2 separate regions of the Homo sapiens genome follow, and region 1 is reported to be linked to region 2. The links are microRNA targets in miRTarBase. Many come from high-throughput screens and were not tested one by one. Region 2 holds a microRNA gene; the other region holds the end of a gene's coding sequence.

What was found. Region 2 holds the annotated microRNA hsa-miR-4733-3p (CCACCAGGUCUAGCAUUGGGAU, at 3,398-3,419, shown strand). A microRNA usually pairs through its seed, bases 2 to 8, with sites in the 3' UTR of a target mRNA and lowers its output. Matches are read on the target gene's strand: a 7mer-m8 pairs with bases 2 to 8, a 7mer-A1 pairs with bases 2 to 7 and ends in A, and an 8mer does both.
Region 1: miRTarBase lists SLC38A5 as a target of hsa-miR-4733-3p. Seed matches in the 3' UTR shown: 7mer-m8 at 6,547-6,553.

The regions. Positions count from the first base shown.
Region 1 is chrX:48,452,100-48,459,842 of GRCh38, forward strand. It overlaps SLC38A5 (solute carrier family 38 member 5), which reads right to left. Exons shown (of 17, transcript NM_033518.4): 15 at 7,633-7,743; 16 at 7,437-7,540; 17 at 6,445-6,935. The coding sequence ends at 6,834. Among named protein-coding and RNA genes, the nearest start is that of SLC38A5, 14 kb to the right of the region's middle.
Region 2 is chr17:31,090,034-31,097,776 of GRCh38, reverse strand. MIR4733 (microRNA 4733) reads left to right here and starts at 3,352; the gene lies at 3,352-3,427. NF1 (neurofibromin 1) reads right to left here and starts at 2,800. Exons shown (of 58, transcript NM_001042492.3): 1 at 2,408-2,800. The coding sequence starts at 2,467. MIR4733HG (MIR4733 host gene) reads left to right here and starts at 2,287. Exons shown (of 4, transcript NR_186435.1): 1 at 2,287-2,550; 2 at 4,286-4,404; 3 at 6,659-6,752; 4 at 6,842-7,035. LOC124903974 (a long non-coding RNA gene) reads right to left here and starts at 6,142. Exons shown (of 2, transcript XR_007065704.1): 1 at 6,070-6,142; 2 at 4,650-4,901. RefSeq lists silencers at 2,396-2,445, 2,486-2,555, cis regulatory regions at 2,411-2,721, 2,948-3,187, an enhancer at 2,790-2,807 and a promoter at 2,795-3,220.

The DNA of each region.
Region 1 (7,743 bases), not on the chromosome of region 2:
GAATAGAGACTACAGAATTTGTTCAGGAAAAAAACTAGACAAACTTGTGTTTTGAGACAGGGTCTTGCTCTGTCTCTCAGGCTGGAGTACAGTGGCACTAACACGGCTCACTGCAGCCTTGATCTCCCAGGCTCAAGCAATCCTCCAGCATCAGCCTCTGAGTAGCTGGGACTATAGGCATGCGCCACCACACCAAGCTAATTTAATTTATTTATTTATTTATTTATTTTTTGAGATGGAGTCTCACTCTGTCGCCCAGGCTGGAGTGCAGTGGTGCGATCTCAGCTCACTGCAAGCTCCGCCTCCCGGGTTCACACCATTCTCCTGTCTCAGCCTCCCGAGTAGCTGGGACTGCAGGGGCCCGCCACCACGCCTGGCTAATTTTTTTGTATTTTTAGTAGAGACGGGGTTTCACCGTGTTAGCCAGGATGGTCTCAATCTCCTGACCTCACGATCCACCTGCCTCGGCCTCCCAAAGTGCTGGGATTACAGGCGTGAGCCACCGCGCTCGGCCAATTTTTTTTTCTTTTTTAAGAGACGGGGTCTCACTATGTTGCCCGAGCTGGTCTCAAACTCCTAGGCTCAAATGATCCTCCTGCCTTGGCCTCCCAAAGTGCTTGGATTACAGGCATGAGCCACCGAGCTCAGCCTAAACAAACATTGAAAACAAACAAACAAAACAGCAACAAGAAACCCCAGGGAAGGGACAGAATCTGGTTTCCAGAGTTGCCACATTATATTATTTGAAATGTCCAGTTTTCAATAAAAAATTATGACACCTGCAAAGAAAGAAGAAAATACGACCCATCCACAGAATAAAGAAAAAAGACCACCTATAGAAACCATCCCTGAGAAAGCCCAGATGTTGGGTTTTCCTTTTTTCTTAATGTATTTTATTTTATTTATTTATTTATTTTGAGACAGAGTTTTGCTCTGTCGCCCCGGCTGGGGTGCAGTGGTGCAATCTCGGCTCACTGCAACCTCTGCCTCCCAGACTCAAGCAATTCTACTGCCTCAGCCTCCCAAGTAGTTGGGACTACAGGCACCCACTACCACACCTGGCTACTTTTTGTATTTTTAGTAGAGACAGGGTTTCACCATATTGGCCAGGCTGGTCTTGAACTCCTGACCTCAAGTGATCCACCTGCCTTGTCCTCCCAAAGTGCTGGGATTACAGGTGTGAGCCACCACGCCCAGCCAGATGCTGGGTTTTCTAATAAAAAGACTTTAAATGAGCTATTTAAAATACGTCCAAAAACCTCAAAGAAACTATGTCTAAAGAACTAAAGTATAGAAACAATATCTCACCAAATAGAGAGTATCAATACAGACATAGAAATATAAAAAATGAACCAAATAGAAATTTCTGGAGTTTAAAAGTGTAATAATCAAAATGAAAAATTCATCTTCTGCTGATGCTAGGAGTAGGGACATTGCCCTCATCTCTTTTTGGGGTTCTTTCTGTTAAATATGAAGACTTGCTTTTTTTTCTTTTTGAGACAAGGTCTCACTCTGTTGCCCAGGCTGGAGTGAGTGGTGCAATCACAGCTCACTGCAGCCCTGAACTCCTAGGTTCAAACAACTCTCCCACCTCAGCCTCCCTGAGTAGCTGGGACTGCAGGTGCAAACCACCATGCCCGACTAATTAAAAAAAAAAAATTGGGGCTGGGCGCGGTGGCTCACACCTGTAATCTCAGCACTTTGGGAGGCCAAGGCAGGCGGATCACCTGAGGTCAGGAGTTTGAAACCAGCCTGGCCAACATGGTGAAACCCTGTCTCTACTAAAAATACAAAAATTAGCTGGGCACGGTGGCGCATGCCTGTAGTCCCAGCTACTCAGGAGGCTGAAACAGGAAAATCGCTTGAACCCGGGAGGCAGAGGTTGCAGTGTGCCAAAATCGTGCCATTGCACTCCAGCCTGAGCAACAAAGCAAGACTCTGTCTCTAAATAAATAGATAAATAAATAAATAAATAATAAATAAATAAATAAATATTGTGTAGAGACAGGATCTCACTATGTTGCCCAGGTTGGTCTCAAATTCCTGGCCTCAAGTCATCCTCCTTAGCCTCCCAAAGTGCCCAGATTATAGGCATGAGTCAAGACTTGCAGTTTTAAGGCCAGGTGCTGGAATTTCAGGTTACCATTATTATCAAAAAGAATGGTTTGTTGAGCTTAAGTTTAGTGGCAGTAAAGGGAGTGGACAAAGCTATATAAGAGCAATGTTTTGTATAGTATTGAAATTAAGTTGGTATCAATCTGAACTAGATTGCTAAAAATTAAGATGTTATTTTTAATCCCTAGTATGGTCTGAATGTGTCCCCTCCAAAACTCAGGTGTTGTCAATGTGACAGTATTAAGAGATAGGGTCTTTAAGAAGTGACTAGGCCATGAGGGGTTCTCCCTAATGAGATTAGGTGTCCTTATAAATGAGATGGAGGGAGTTGCTTCTCTCATGTCCTTCTGCCTTCTGCCATATGAGAATGCAGCAAAAAGCGCTGACCAGATGCTGGTGCCTTGATCTTGGACTTTCCAGCCTCCAGAACTGTGAGAAAATAAATGTCTGTTCTATACAAATTACCCAGTCTGAGGTATTCTATCATAGCAGCACCAAAAGACTACTAAAATCCCCTAAGTAGGACTTGCATCCCAAGGAAGTGTAAGACTTCTGCACTGAAAACTACAAAACATTGCTGAAGGAAATTAAAGACCTAAATAAATGGAAAGATAGCCCATTTTTCATGGATCGGAAGATTTAATGAAGTACTGATACATGCTGTGGCATGCATAAACCTTGAAAATATGCTAAGTGAAAGAAGCCAGACACAAAAGACCACAGTGTATGATTCCACTTATATGAATGCCAAGAATAGGCAAATCCGTAGGGACAGAAAGTAGATTCATGGTTCCCAAAGGCTGGGCGGAGTGGGGAGTTACTATTAATGGGTATGAGGTTTCTGGTGGGGGGGGGTTGTTGTTGTTGTTGTTTGTTTTTTTTGTTTTTTTTTTTTGTTTTTGAAACAAGGTCTCACTCTGTTGCCCAGGCTGGAGTGCAATGGTCCAATCCAGCTCACTGCAGCCTTGAACTCCTTAGTTCAAGCAATTCTCCCACCCCAGCCTCCCTGAGTAGCTGAGACTGCAGGTGCACACCACCATGCCCAGCTAATTAAAAAAAAAACTTAGGGACAGGATCTCATTATGTTGCCCAGGTTGGTCTCAAATTCCTGGCCTCAAGTCATCCTCTTGCCTTGGCCTCCCAAAGTGCTGGGATTACAAGCATGAGTCATCGTGCCCAGCCAAGACTTGCAGTTTGAAGGCCAGGTGCTGGAATTTCAGGCTACCGTTATTCTCAAAAAGAATGGCTTGTTGAGCTTAAGTTTAGTGGCAGTAAGGGATAAAGAACAGTGAAACAAGGAGCATATAGTATTAATCAACTACAGACAACTGCCCTATTTGTAAATAGAAGCAGGGAAATAATATATATGTGTAGTAGCTTATAAATGCGTAAAAATTATCTGGGAGGATAAGCAAATGTCTCTCAAACATCTAAAAGCTTCCTTCAGGCTGGGTGCGGTGCTTCATGCCTATAATCTCAGCAATTTGGGAGGCCGAGATGGGTGGATCACTTGAGCCCAGGAATTCGAGACCAGCTTGGGCAACATGGTGAGACCCCGTCTCTACAAAAAAATACAAAAAAGGCCGGGCGCAGTGGCTCACACCTGTAATCCTAGCACTTTGGGAGGCTGAGGCAGGCGGATCACGAGGTCGGGAGGTGGATCACGAGGTCGGGAGATCGAGACCATCCTGACTAACATGGTGAAACCCCGTTTCTACTAAAAATACAAAAAATTAGCCAGGTGTGGTGGCACACATCTGTAGTCCCAGCTACTCGGGAGGCTGAGGCAAGAGAATCACTTGAACCCGGGGAACAGAGGTTGCACTGATCCGAGATCGTGCCATTGCACTCCAGCCTGGGAGACAAGAGCAAGACTTCATCTAAAAAATAAAATAAAATAAAATAAAATAAAATAAAATAAGCCGGGTGTGGTGGCATATGCCTGTGGTCCCAGCTACTTGGGAGGCTGAGGTAAGAGAATCACTTGAACCCGGGAAGTTGAGGTTGCAGTGAGCTGTGATCTCACTACTGTACTCCAGGCTGGATGACAGTGAAACCCTGCCAAAAAAAAAAAAAAAAAACCTTATTTCATAAATACGGCTCATGCCTGTAATCCGAGCACTTTGGGAGGCCAAGGTGGGAGGATCACTTGAGCCCAAGAGTTTGAGACCAGCCTAGGCAACATAGAGAGATCTCATTTCTACTGAAAATTTTAAAAATTATCCAGGCATAGTGGCGCATGCCTGTAGTCCCAGCTACTCAGAAGGCTGAGGCAGGAGGATAGCTTGAGCCTGGGAGGCTAAAGCTTCAGTGAGCCGTGATGGCACCACTGCACTCCAGCCTGGATGACAGAGCAAGACCCTGTCTCAAAAACAGTTAAAAATTAAAAATTAAAGAATTAGAAATACACACACACACACACACACACACACACACACACGTATGTGAAGTGTAATGGCAATACCATTTTTTCTATGAGGTTGACAAAAATCTGTTGCATTGCTCAGGCTGTTGACAAGGCTGTGGTGAAAATGGCACTCACATACTCATGCTAGCTTCTCCTTGCTCTTGCTTGGACCAGCCATGCTCGTTCCTACCTCGGGGCCCTTGCACCTGTTGCTCCCTCTGCCTGGAACACCCTTTGCCAAAATAACCATGAGGCTTGCTCCTTTCAGCCAACCTAGGACCAAATTCATTGCCCCCTCCTTAGTGAAGTCTCGCTGAATGCCTCCTCACCCACCACCTCCCCACACCACTCTCACATCGCTCATTTTCTTCATTGCACCATCTTTATGAGGAATGATTTCTCTTTTATTCTCTTTGTTAGGTCAGAGGTCAGCTAACATTTTCTGAAAAGGGCCAGAGAGTTAATAGCTCAGGCTTTGCAGGCCATATGGTCTCTGTTGCAAATCCTCAGCTCTGCACGAGAAAGCCACAAACAATATGTAAATGAAGAAGACACTGTAAATGATATGTAAATAATTTAGACACTGAAATTGATATGTAAATGATTTAGACACTGAAATTTGAATTTCACATAATTTCCAAGTGTCACAGAATATTATTTCTTTTAATAATATTTTTTCATTTTCTTTTCTTTTTTTTGAGACAGAGGCTGGAGTGCAGTGGTGAGATCTTGGCTCACTGCAACCTCTGACTCCCAAGTTCAAGCGATTCTCCTGCCTCAGCCTCCTGAGTAGCTGGGATTACAGGCGCGTGCCACCATGCCTGGCTGATTTTTGTATTTTTAGTAGAAACGGGGTTTCACCACGTTGGCCAGGCTGGTCTAGAACTCCTTACCTCAGGTGATCTGCCCGCGTCGGCCTCCCAAAGTGCTAGGATTACAGGCATGAGCCACCACACCCAGCCCCTTTTCTTTTTGAGACAGGGTCTCACTCTGTCACTCAGGCTAGAGTGCAGTGGCGTGATCATAGCTCACTGCACCCTCAATCTCCCGGGCTGAAGCGATCCTCCCACCTCAGTCTCCCAAGTAGCTGGGACTATAGGCTTGCACTATCACACCCGGCTATTTCTTTTAATATTTTTTGTAGAGATGGGGTCTTGCCGTGTTGCCCAGGCTGCTCTCAAATGATCCTCCTGCCTCAGACTCCCAAAGTGCTGGTGATTACAGGCATAAGCCACCATGCTGGATCCACCTTTTTTCAATCATTTAGAAATATGAAAGCCAGTCTTAGTTCAAGGGCCATACCAAAATAGGCAGCAGGATGGATTTGCCCACTCGTGTGTCAGAACATCAACTCCAGGGCACTATTGTCTGCTTGGTTCACTGCTATATCCCCAGCACCTAGAATAGTGCCTGGCACCCAGTAGGCTTTCAGGAGATGTTTACCGAGTGAATGAGTGAAGTCTTTTTCTGTGTGTGAGATGGAGTCTCACTCTGTCGCCCAGGCTGGAGTACAGTGGCACAATCTCGGCTCACTGCAACCTCCGCCTCCTGGGTTCAAGCGATTCTCCCGCCTTAGCCTCCCAAGTAGCTGGGACTATAGCGTGCACCACCACACCCAGTTAATTTTAGTATTTTTTAGTAGAGACGGGGTTTTGCCATGGTGGCCAGGCTGGTCTCAAACTTGTGATTTCAAGTGATCCGCCGGCCTCAACCTCCCAAAGTGCTGGGATTACAGGCGTGAGTCACTGCTCCTGGCCAAGTGGGTGAAATATTAAGTTGAGTAGCAAGTTACTGAAAGAGTGAAGTGAATGAATGCATGATCAGGCACAGTCCCACTCGCAGGGCTTCAGTTTGCTCCAGCCTGGACTCCGGCAGGCTCCCCCAGCAAGACTAAGAGAAAGATCAGAAGGCTGAGTCCAGAGTGGTAGCTCAACATCTTTATTTTTCCTCTTTAGCCCGAGGGTAATCCTGACAAACAGCTTCAGCCAGGAGGAGGCAGAGAGGACTGGGCTGGGCAAAGGCTCCACCAGGACCTGGCCTCCTCCTCCTCCTCCTCCTCCTCCTCCTCCTCCTCTTCTTCCTCCTCCTCCTCCTCCCATGGGGTTGGGGTTGGGATTAGGGCCATGATCCAAGCTTGGCATCCCTGGGGAGGAGGGAAGTGGGCCAGTCTGCAGCCTCTGCTGTCCCCCGCCTCTGACAACCACGTTCATGGGAACCAGCCACCTCCACATGTTGGGCAGGAGGGACCCTAGGGAGCGGCCCTGACCCCTCCATGTGCATGCGCACAGGGACCTGGGCCAGCAGGGCCTGATCAGTGTCCAGACATGCGGCTCTGGCCTGTGGCCCAGTTGGCAAACATAAAGCCTAGACTGACGGCCATGAAGAGGACTCCCAGGACTCCAAAGCACAGGGCCTGTGGGCCAGAGAGACAAGATGGGGCTGGTTGGGACTCCTCACCCAGTTGCCTTCTGAGAATGTTCCTCAAGTCTTCCACCTCCTTCAGAGAGTGCTCCATCCATTCCTGACCCTCCTCTGTATGCCCTCTCCTTCCTTACAGCCAGCCCCTTTCTGCGAGTCCTTCCACCTTCCCAGGACCCATGACAGAATACGTTCCTCCATCCTCCTTCTTCAAAGTGCTTCCAGCTCTCTTCCCAATAGTGCTCTTTCCATCTGTCTGGAGAATGCTCCCTCTATGCCAGCCTCTGTTTGAGTGCTCCCTGTCTTCCTGGACCCTGCTGGTGCTCTGTCTCCTCTGCCCCTTCCTAGACAATCACCTTCATTCTTCCAGACCATTCTTTCAGATGCTCTCCCAGCCCCCTCCTATGCATGTCCCTTTCACCTCCAGCCATCCTGGAGTGAGCACTCCCTCCTTGGAGTGCTCCCTCTCTCCCTAGCTCTGCCCTGGAATGCTTACCTGGATCTTGGGCCAGGATAAGAAAGGCTCCACCTCAGAGGGTACAATGCGGAGGTAGAAGATGCTGGGGAGGATGAAGATGAGGCTGGGGGCTGAGGTGGACCCTGGAGAACAAGAAGAAGGGACAGGAGTCAACCTGACTTGGGGACAAGGCCCATATTAGATGGGGTATGGGACTGGGGTGAGGTTTACTGACCGATAACTCCAAAGATATCCCGGATGGTTGGCACACAGATGACAAGGACATTGACCAAAACAAGCAGGATCAGAGCTATGGCCACATGTCGTGGCCAGCTGAAGGCCTTGC
Region 2 (7,743 bases):
TGCAATGAACCGACATCAAGCTACTGCACTCCAGCGTGGGCGACAGAGCAAGACCTTGTCTCAAAAAAAAAAAGTGAGGAATAATCTCTCCTATATATCTTTCTCTTAATTACAACATAAGGAATGCAGAAAAATGCTGTTTTAAAAACTAATGTCCTTAATTTTTAACAGATGGTGGTGAGTTTGATTCCACAATATGCATAACAAACAACGAAGCCTTAAGGTCTTTTAAAGCTAGGGACAGAAGGAGAAACACTTTCTTGCTTTACTGGGTATATAATCAAAATCATTCCTCCTTTTTTTTTTTTTTTTTTTTTGGAGACAAGAGTCTCGCTCTGTCGCCCAGGCTAGAGTGCAGTGGTGTGATCTCAGCTCACTGCAACCTCCACCTCCCGGATTCAAGCAATTCTCCTGCCTCAGCCTCCCGAGTAGCTGGGATTACAGGCGCCCGCCACCATGCCCAGCTAATTTTTGTATTTTTAGTAGAGACGAGGTTTCTCCATGTTGGTCAGGCTGGTCTCAAACTCCTGACCTCAGGTGATCCACCTGCCTTGGCATCCCAAAGTGCTGGGATTACAGGCGTGAGCCACCGCGCCCAGCCCAAAATCATTCCTCTCTTAAGTATCTTTTTCCAATATGGCAAATAAGCCTAGAGATGAACAGGTAAGAAGTAAAAAAATAAAATTAAGAAAAAACTGAAAAAAATTTTTAATTTTTAAAATTTAAGGAGAATTGCGGCGTGGATCCTTCAATTTCCTACATCCAGATTCTGCTGTCCACAAGGTTCAGCTTTGGAAGTCTTCTATGTGCCTTTTAAATCCTTTCTTAAAATTACAGAGTCTTTTCTACCAAGTTTTAAATCTAACGCTCTATCAATAATGTAATCTTTTATATGCAGTAACATTATACTTCAGATGGATTAGTAGTTTAGTTTAGATGCCTTTGGGTCTGGAAGCATACGAATGGATAAAACAATTCCTTCAAGTCTCTGACAGCTTCATAACTCTATTTTATCTACATAGCTTCTTCTCAACTTCCTCTGTCTATTCCAAGATATTTTCCAGGTAGGTCTGAAACGCTGAGTCCCGTAAAGAAATGTTTATGCATCAAATAACAGAAGAGCTCTTCCCCCACCCCTTCAGCTCCCATAATGTTTTACCATTATATCCAGTAAACAAAATAGGTTGACTCAATCTTAAACAATTCCCCCATCACAGGAAGCCCACTGCACCCACAGCTGCAGAAAGCATCCCTTAAACCATCCCCAACTACCTACAGCAACACAAAGTTAAACCAATTTCCACTGACAAAAGGCTATGTGTGCATTTATTCTAATCAGCCCCAGGATTTATTGTGTGAAACTCAGGCGATAAAAAGTCACCTCCTCAAGCTACAAAACTTTTTTTTCATCCCAAATATTCTCAATGAAAGTTCTCTTGTCAACCAGGAGAGAGTCAAAAACAACCACAAACACTAGCAGAATGATCCGCTCCAGGACCACATCCCAGCTGGCTTTGCTCTGTTGTCGGTGGCTCTGAAGCAGTTTCTCACTTTCCTTTCACCCTTCTCCCCTTTACTCCCCAACATTCTCACTCGAGAATGCATCACATCCTCAGACCGCTGGCAAAAAAAAAAGGGGGGGGGGAAGAGACTGCAATTATCAAGGAAGGGGAAGATATTTCAGAACCACGGTTTCCACTGCAAACGGCAATAAAAAAAAAAGGCAGTCTGTGTCATCAGGATATGGGGGACGACGTTGTAGGGCATCACAAAGATGTGCAGTGAGTGTGCACTTGAAGCTCTCGGGGCAGGATGAGACGATGGAGCAGAAAGTAAGAAAACCTGTGCCTTCCTTGCTTTCTTCTGCTCTTCCCCCTCCAGGAGAGGAAGCTGAAGAAACTGGGGGAGGGGCGGAATGTTATCGTTCTCCTATTGAGGGTATATAAGACAGGCCTTAGGGTTCGCTCGTCCCCAGTTAGGAGGGTCACGGAGGGAAGAGGAAGAGAGAACCCCTAAACGTTACCCACCTCTGCTCAAAAACAAAAGTAAGGGGGTAATTATTAAATCCAGATGGCGCGCCCCTAAAGGCGCCCCCAGGTCACTCATCCCCATTTCCAAGCGGAAGGGCTGGGATAAAGGGGATGGAGGGTCGGAGGCTGGTCAGGGACAAGGCCCCACCCCCCGACTTAGGAGGGAAAGGGTGCCCAAGCTCCCAGCTGTCCCCTCCTACCCCTCACCTCCCGCCTTGGCCACCCCCACTTATCCCCCCTTCCCTTCTCTTCCCTTCCCTTCCTTTCCTCCAGAGCCTGAGGCAGCCGCGGGGGAGGCGGCCGCTCCTACCTCCCCTCACCTACTCTGTCCCCACCCCCACTCCGCTCCCACCTCCCGCCCGCCACGGGCCGGTTACCTGCTCGTCGAAGCGGCTGACCACGGCCTGGACCCATTCCACCGGCCTGTGCGCGGCCATGTCCTCCCCGCGGCCGGGGGGCGGCGGAGGGAAGGGTGGGCCGGCGCCCTGGGCCGGGAAGAGGGCGGGGAGCGGAGGCTGAGGTGAGGGAAGAGGCAAGGAGAGGGTCTGTGGAGTGCAGGCTCCCAGTGTTCCCACGGGGGTGGGGATGGGGGGTCAGCGCCGAGCGGGAGGGGGAGAGGGAAAGGGGGCGTTGGCAAGGAGGCTGGGGGGAGGGGGATAGGGGAAGGGGACCCGGGGAGGGGAGGGGGCCTCTTGGTCGCTCTCCCCACTAGCGCCGTCTCCCCACAGCCATCACAGTCCGAGACGCCGCCATGACACCCCACCGGAAGTGGGATCCTTTCCACGGCCCGGGGAGAGGGAGCGCGAGCGAGCTAGAGATTGAGAGCGCGGCTGGGAAAGGGGAGGGGGAAGCGAGAGGGAAGGCGGCCTGCCGCGCATGCGCCCGCGCCGGCCGGTTTCATTAATGAAAAAGCGAGTCCTCCTGGAGGTGACGTCATCTAACTCCTCTGGGCCGTCTGGCGAGCGTCCCTCACCGCCGTGGGGCTCACCTAGACTGGCGCTGGGCTCAGCTGGCGAGTGCCAGAGCTGACCCGGGAGCATCCACTCCCATCCCCACCGCCCCCTACAGCTGTCCCCTCCCCCGCCGGCCTCCGGGTTTGGATTGCTCCCGGAGTTGGAAGTTAGGGCGCCCTGGGGCTAGCCTTTCTCCCAGCGCGCGGATCTCTGCCGCTAATCTCCTGGGGAGGCTGTGCTCTCAGCTTAAGCTCTCAGAAAAAATAAGGTACACGACCTCCGATTTTCAGGTTCTTCGTAGCTTGGTAGACTGCTGAGAAACAAAAAAGGAAGGCCAAAGAGAGATTCCGTGATTTTTTTTTTTTAGAGGTCGCTTAAATCCCAATGCTAGACCCGGTGGCAATCAAGGTCTAGCCACCAGGTCTAGCATTGGGATTTAAGCCCAGCTTTCCTCTGCAAAACTCATAGCCATCCAAGTTAATATAACTATTGCACAGTTGATGAGAGATTCAAGTTTCACCACCCTCAAAACACCTTTAAGGCCTTGCATTCATTATTAATTCAATATATTCATCGTCTTATTTAAATCCTTGAACAAACCTTTTCAATACATATCATTAACTTCATGAACTGATGAATACGTCACGTCCCCACCCCCGTGGGAACGCTGGGAGCCTGCACTCCTCCCTCAGACCTTTGATTTGCCCAAGGTCTGAGTTGACAGGTGGCAAAGTCAGGATGTAAACCAACGTGGTTTAACTCCTAGAACAATAGAGGTAGACTATGGGTCTCCTAAAACAAAGTCCTTCCCTATACCTCCAATACCAGAGTTGAAAGGATTTCATGTGTAATTGGGTTGTGCCAGTTTTCCAGGAAGAGGATTACATCCAAAACAACGGATAATCTATGTCTGACATTGGACTTTGGAATGACTAATTTTTTTTTTTTTTTTTTAAGACAGAGTCTCACCCTGTCACCCAGGCTGGAGTGCAGAGGCGCGATCTCGGCTCACTGCAACCTCCGCCTCCCGGTTGAAGTGATTCTTCTGCCTCAGCCTCCCGAGTAGCTGGGACTACAGGCATGCGCCACCACAGCCGGCTAATTTTTGTATTTTTAGTAGAGACGGTGTTTCACCATATTGGCCAGGCTGGTCTTGAACTCCTGACCTCATGATCCGCCCACCTCAGCCTCCCAAAGTACTGGGATTACAGGTGTGAGCCACCGCACCTGGCCTGGAATGAGTAATTTTAAAATTTGTCTTCCTCGATACATTTTACCTAGGCAAATGTTTTTGTTTTTCAGAGACAAGGTCTGACTCTGTGCAGTGGAGTGCAGTGGCTCAATCATAGCTCACTCCAGCCTCAGACTCCTGGGCCGAAGTGATCCTCCCACCTCAAGCTCCTGAATAGCTGGGACTACAGGTGAGTGTCACCCTGCTTTGGCTAATTTTTTTTTTTTTTTTTTTTTTGGTAGAGACACAGTCTTGCTATGTTGCCCAGGCTGGTCTGGAACTCCTGGCCTCAAGTGATCCCCCTGCCTTGGCCTCCCAAAGTGCTGGGATGACAGGGGTGAGCTACCACACAGGCCCCTAGGCCAATGTTAAAATGAATTTACACATTCCAAGCACGCGCTAATCAGCCAGTTAAGCCACACAGACACTGGGTGATAAGGGAGAACAAAACTAGAATTTTAATTTTCCTACAGAAAAGCCACAAAGCCAGTAGCCCACATACAGAGAGATATATCCTTGAGAAAAGTTTCCAATCTCTAGGTTGGTGGTTGTCCAAAATACATATTAAATTAATGTTTTATTCCACTAGAACAGACAGACAGTTTGGACATGTCTTTTGTCCCTTCTTCTTTAAGGATGCAATGCAGATACTAATTTCTTTTAGATGATGTCAGAATGATGACTATGCTGGAAAGAAATGGATGAATATTAAATGAATGTCTATCTATGTTTCTCCCAAGTAGGACCCCTGAAAAAGCACTCACTCATACCCCCAAGATAGTATTCCAGTGCCCCCTACTGCACTGCTAAACTTCAGACCTATGACCTTCCTCTCCTTTTCTCATACTTCCTCTGAAAGTCCCTAACTACTTCCTTGTTGCCATGGCTTTTTGCCTGTCTATCTCCCTGATCTTCTTCCCTACACTGGATGCAACTGCCCAAACCCTCAGCTCCCTTGCCTTCCCTGGCATTCCGTTGCTGAAGTTCCTCTGTGCCTTTCTCTCCTCTTCTTCTCTAGTTTAGTCTACCATTGCCCACTCTTCTTTAGCTCTGTGGTAAGACACCCAAACTTCAGGCCCTGGCCCTCTGCTCTTCTTCCTTTACTCAAGCTCCTGCCAGCATGTCATTAATTCATCCTAATTTGTACTCCCTGTTCTGTTGCCTCCCCTCAGTGCCAAACCTCTCATTATAGTCAGAGGCCTAGACTTCACCCCAACTTCCTCTCCAATTAAATTCATTCAGTTCTGCTGAACCAGTATTAAGTGTCCAAATGGGCCGGTCGTGGTGGCTCACACCTATAATGCCAGCACTTTTAGAGGCCGAGGTGGGAGGATTGCTTGAGCCTAGAAGTTCAGACCAGCCTGGGCAACATAGTGAGATCCCAGCTTCTACCAAAAAAAATTATTTAAATTAGTTAGGCATAGTGGTGTGCATCTGTGGTCCCAGCAACTTGGGAGGCTGAGGTGGGAGGATCACTTGAGCTAGAGAGGTCAAGGCTGCAGTGAGCTGTGATCTCGCCACTGCACTCCAGCCTAGGCAACAGAGCAAGACCCTGTCTCTAAAAAATAAATAAAAATAAAAGTACCCAAATGCCTGTTATGTATTATGTACTTTGTTAGACCATACATAGTACATATGGCAGGAATGCTAAACAAAAGTGCCAAAGAAGACTGGACGCTGTGGCTCATGCCTGTAATCCCAGCACTTTGGGAGGCCGAGGCAGGCAGATCACCTGAGGTCAGGAGTTTGAGACCAGCCTGGCCAATGTGGTGAAACTCCATCTCTACTAAAAAAAAAAAAAAAAAAAAAAAAAAGCCGGGCATGGTGGCACATGGCTGTAATCCCAACTACTTACTAGGGTGACTGAGGCAGGAGAATTGCTTGAACCCAGGAGGCTGAGGTTTCAGTGAGCCTAGATTGTGCTGCTGCAATCCAGCCTGGGCGACAGAGTGACTCCATCTCAAAAAAAAAATGCCAAAGAAGGTAATGCATAGAGACTGTGGTGAATTAAGAAGCATATACCCACCTCCATTTATCCAGATAAGAGATACTCTCTCCATTTAAAGAGTATCTGTCACTCAACTCCAGTTACTGCCATGCAGGAATGTTGACCCAGTGTTGCTAGATCTTCTAGTTACTCAAGAGAAGCTAGAGATCTGAACTTACATATAAACTCTTCCAATTTTTACATAGTGGCAGCCAATTTACATTTTTTAAATGCTGTGTAGCCAAACAAAATACGTCTGCTGTCTGAATGTAGCCCATGGAACACCAGTTTGACCAGCACTAGTCTAGTGAAAAGGCATGAGCCTTACAGTAGAACAGAATTAGATTTGTATCCTAACTTCCCCCATTTTGCACTGTCCAACAGTATTCAGGGAACCCTTAGTGTTTCGTATTGTTTTAAATGCATCTCTCTCATTCAGCCTCTGTTTTTTGGTCAGGCAACAAGCTCTGCCAATTTTTTCTTCGAAGAGTTTTGTTCCAAGCTGGGAGCCGTGGCTCATGCCTGTCATCCCAGCACTTTGGGAGGCCAAGGTGGGTGGATCACTTGAGCCCAGGAGTTCCAGACCACCCTGGGCAACATGGCGAAACCTCATCTCTACAAAATTTTTTTTTTTAATTAGCTGGGCATGGTGGCATGTGCCTGTGGTTCCAGTTACTTGGGAAGCTGAAGTGGGAGGATCGCTTGAGCCCAGGAGGTCAAGGCTACAGTGAGCTGTGATGGTGTCATTGCATTCCAGCACTCCAGCCCGGGCATCAGAGTTAGACCTTGTCTTAAAAAATAAATAAATGAATAAATATAAATAAAAAATAAAAAGCTTTTACAGTAGTATTCCCTTCATTCTGCCCACCACCCCCATCTCCACTGGCACAACCAACCATCCCAGCATACCAAAGAGCACACCACTCTTCAGGACTAAGGTGCTCATTTCCTCAGCTGCTGGGCGCATTACTTGTCAACACCTATCAGCTAAATCCCTTTCCAGGAGTTGCCTTCAGCTGAAGAAAGCTGCCTCTCACCAGGTCCGTCTGCACTGACTGGCAGATGCAGGGCTCAGGGTGGGGCTGCTCTGAAGGGCTCTCCTGGCACCAGAGCTCCCTTAGGATCCGGAAGCTGAGGCATTTGCTGTAACTACATTTAGTTCAACTTTTTCTGCTCAATCCTACTCCTTTCCTGCACGGTGTTGATTCCAAGGGCAATTAAATCCATGAGTGTGGCCGGACACCATGGCTCAGACCTGTAATCCCAGCACTTTAGGAGCTGAGGCAGGTGGATCGCGTGAGCCCAAGAGTTCAAGACCAGCCTGACCAACATGGTAAAATCGTATCTTTACAAAAAATAAAAAAATTTGCTGGACATGGCGGTGAGCAGCTGTCATCTCAGCTACTCAGGAGGCTGAAGCTGGAGGATTGCTTGATCCCAGGAGGTAGAGGCTGCAGTGAGCCATGTTTGTACCACTGCACTCCAGGCTGGGTGACAGAGCAAGACCCTGTCTCAAAACAAACGGACAAAAACGTCCCATGA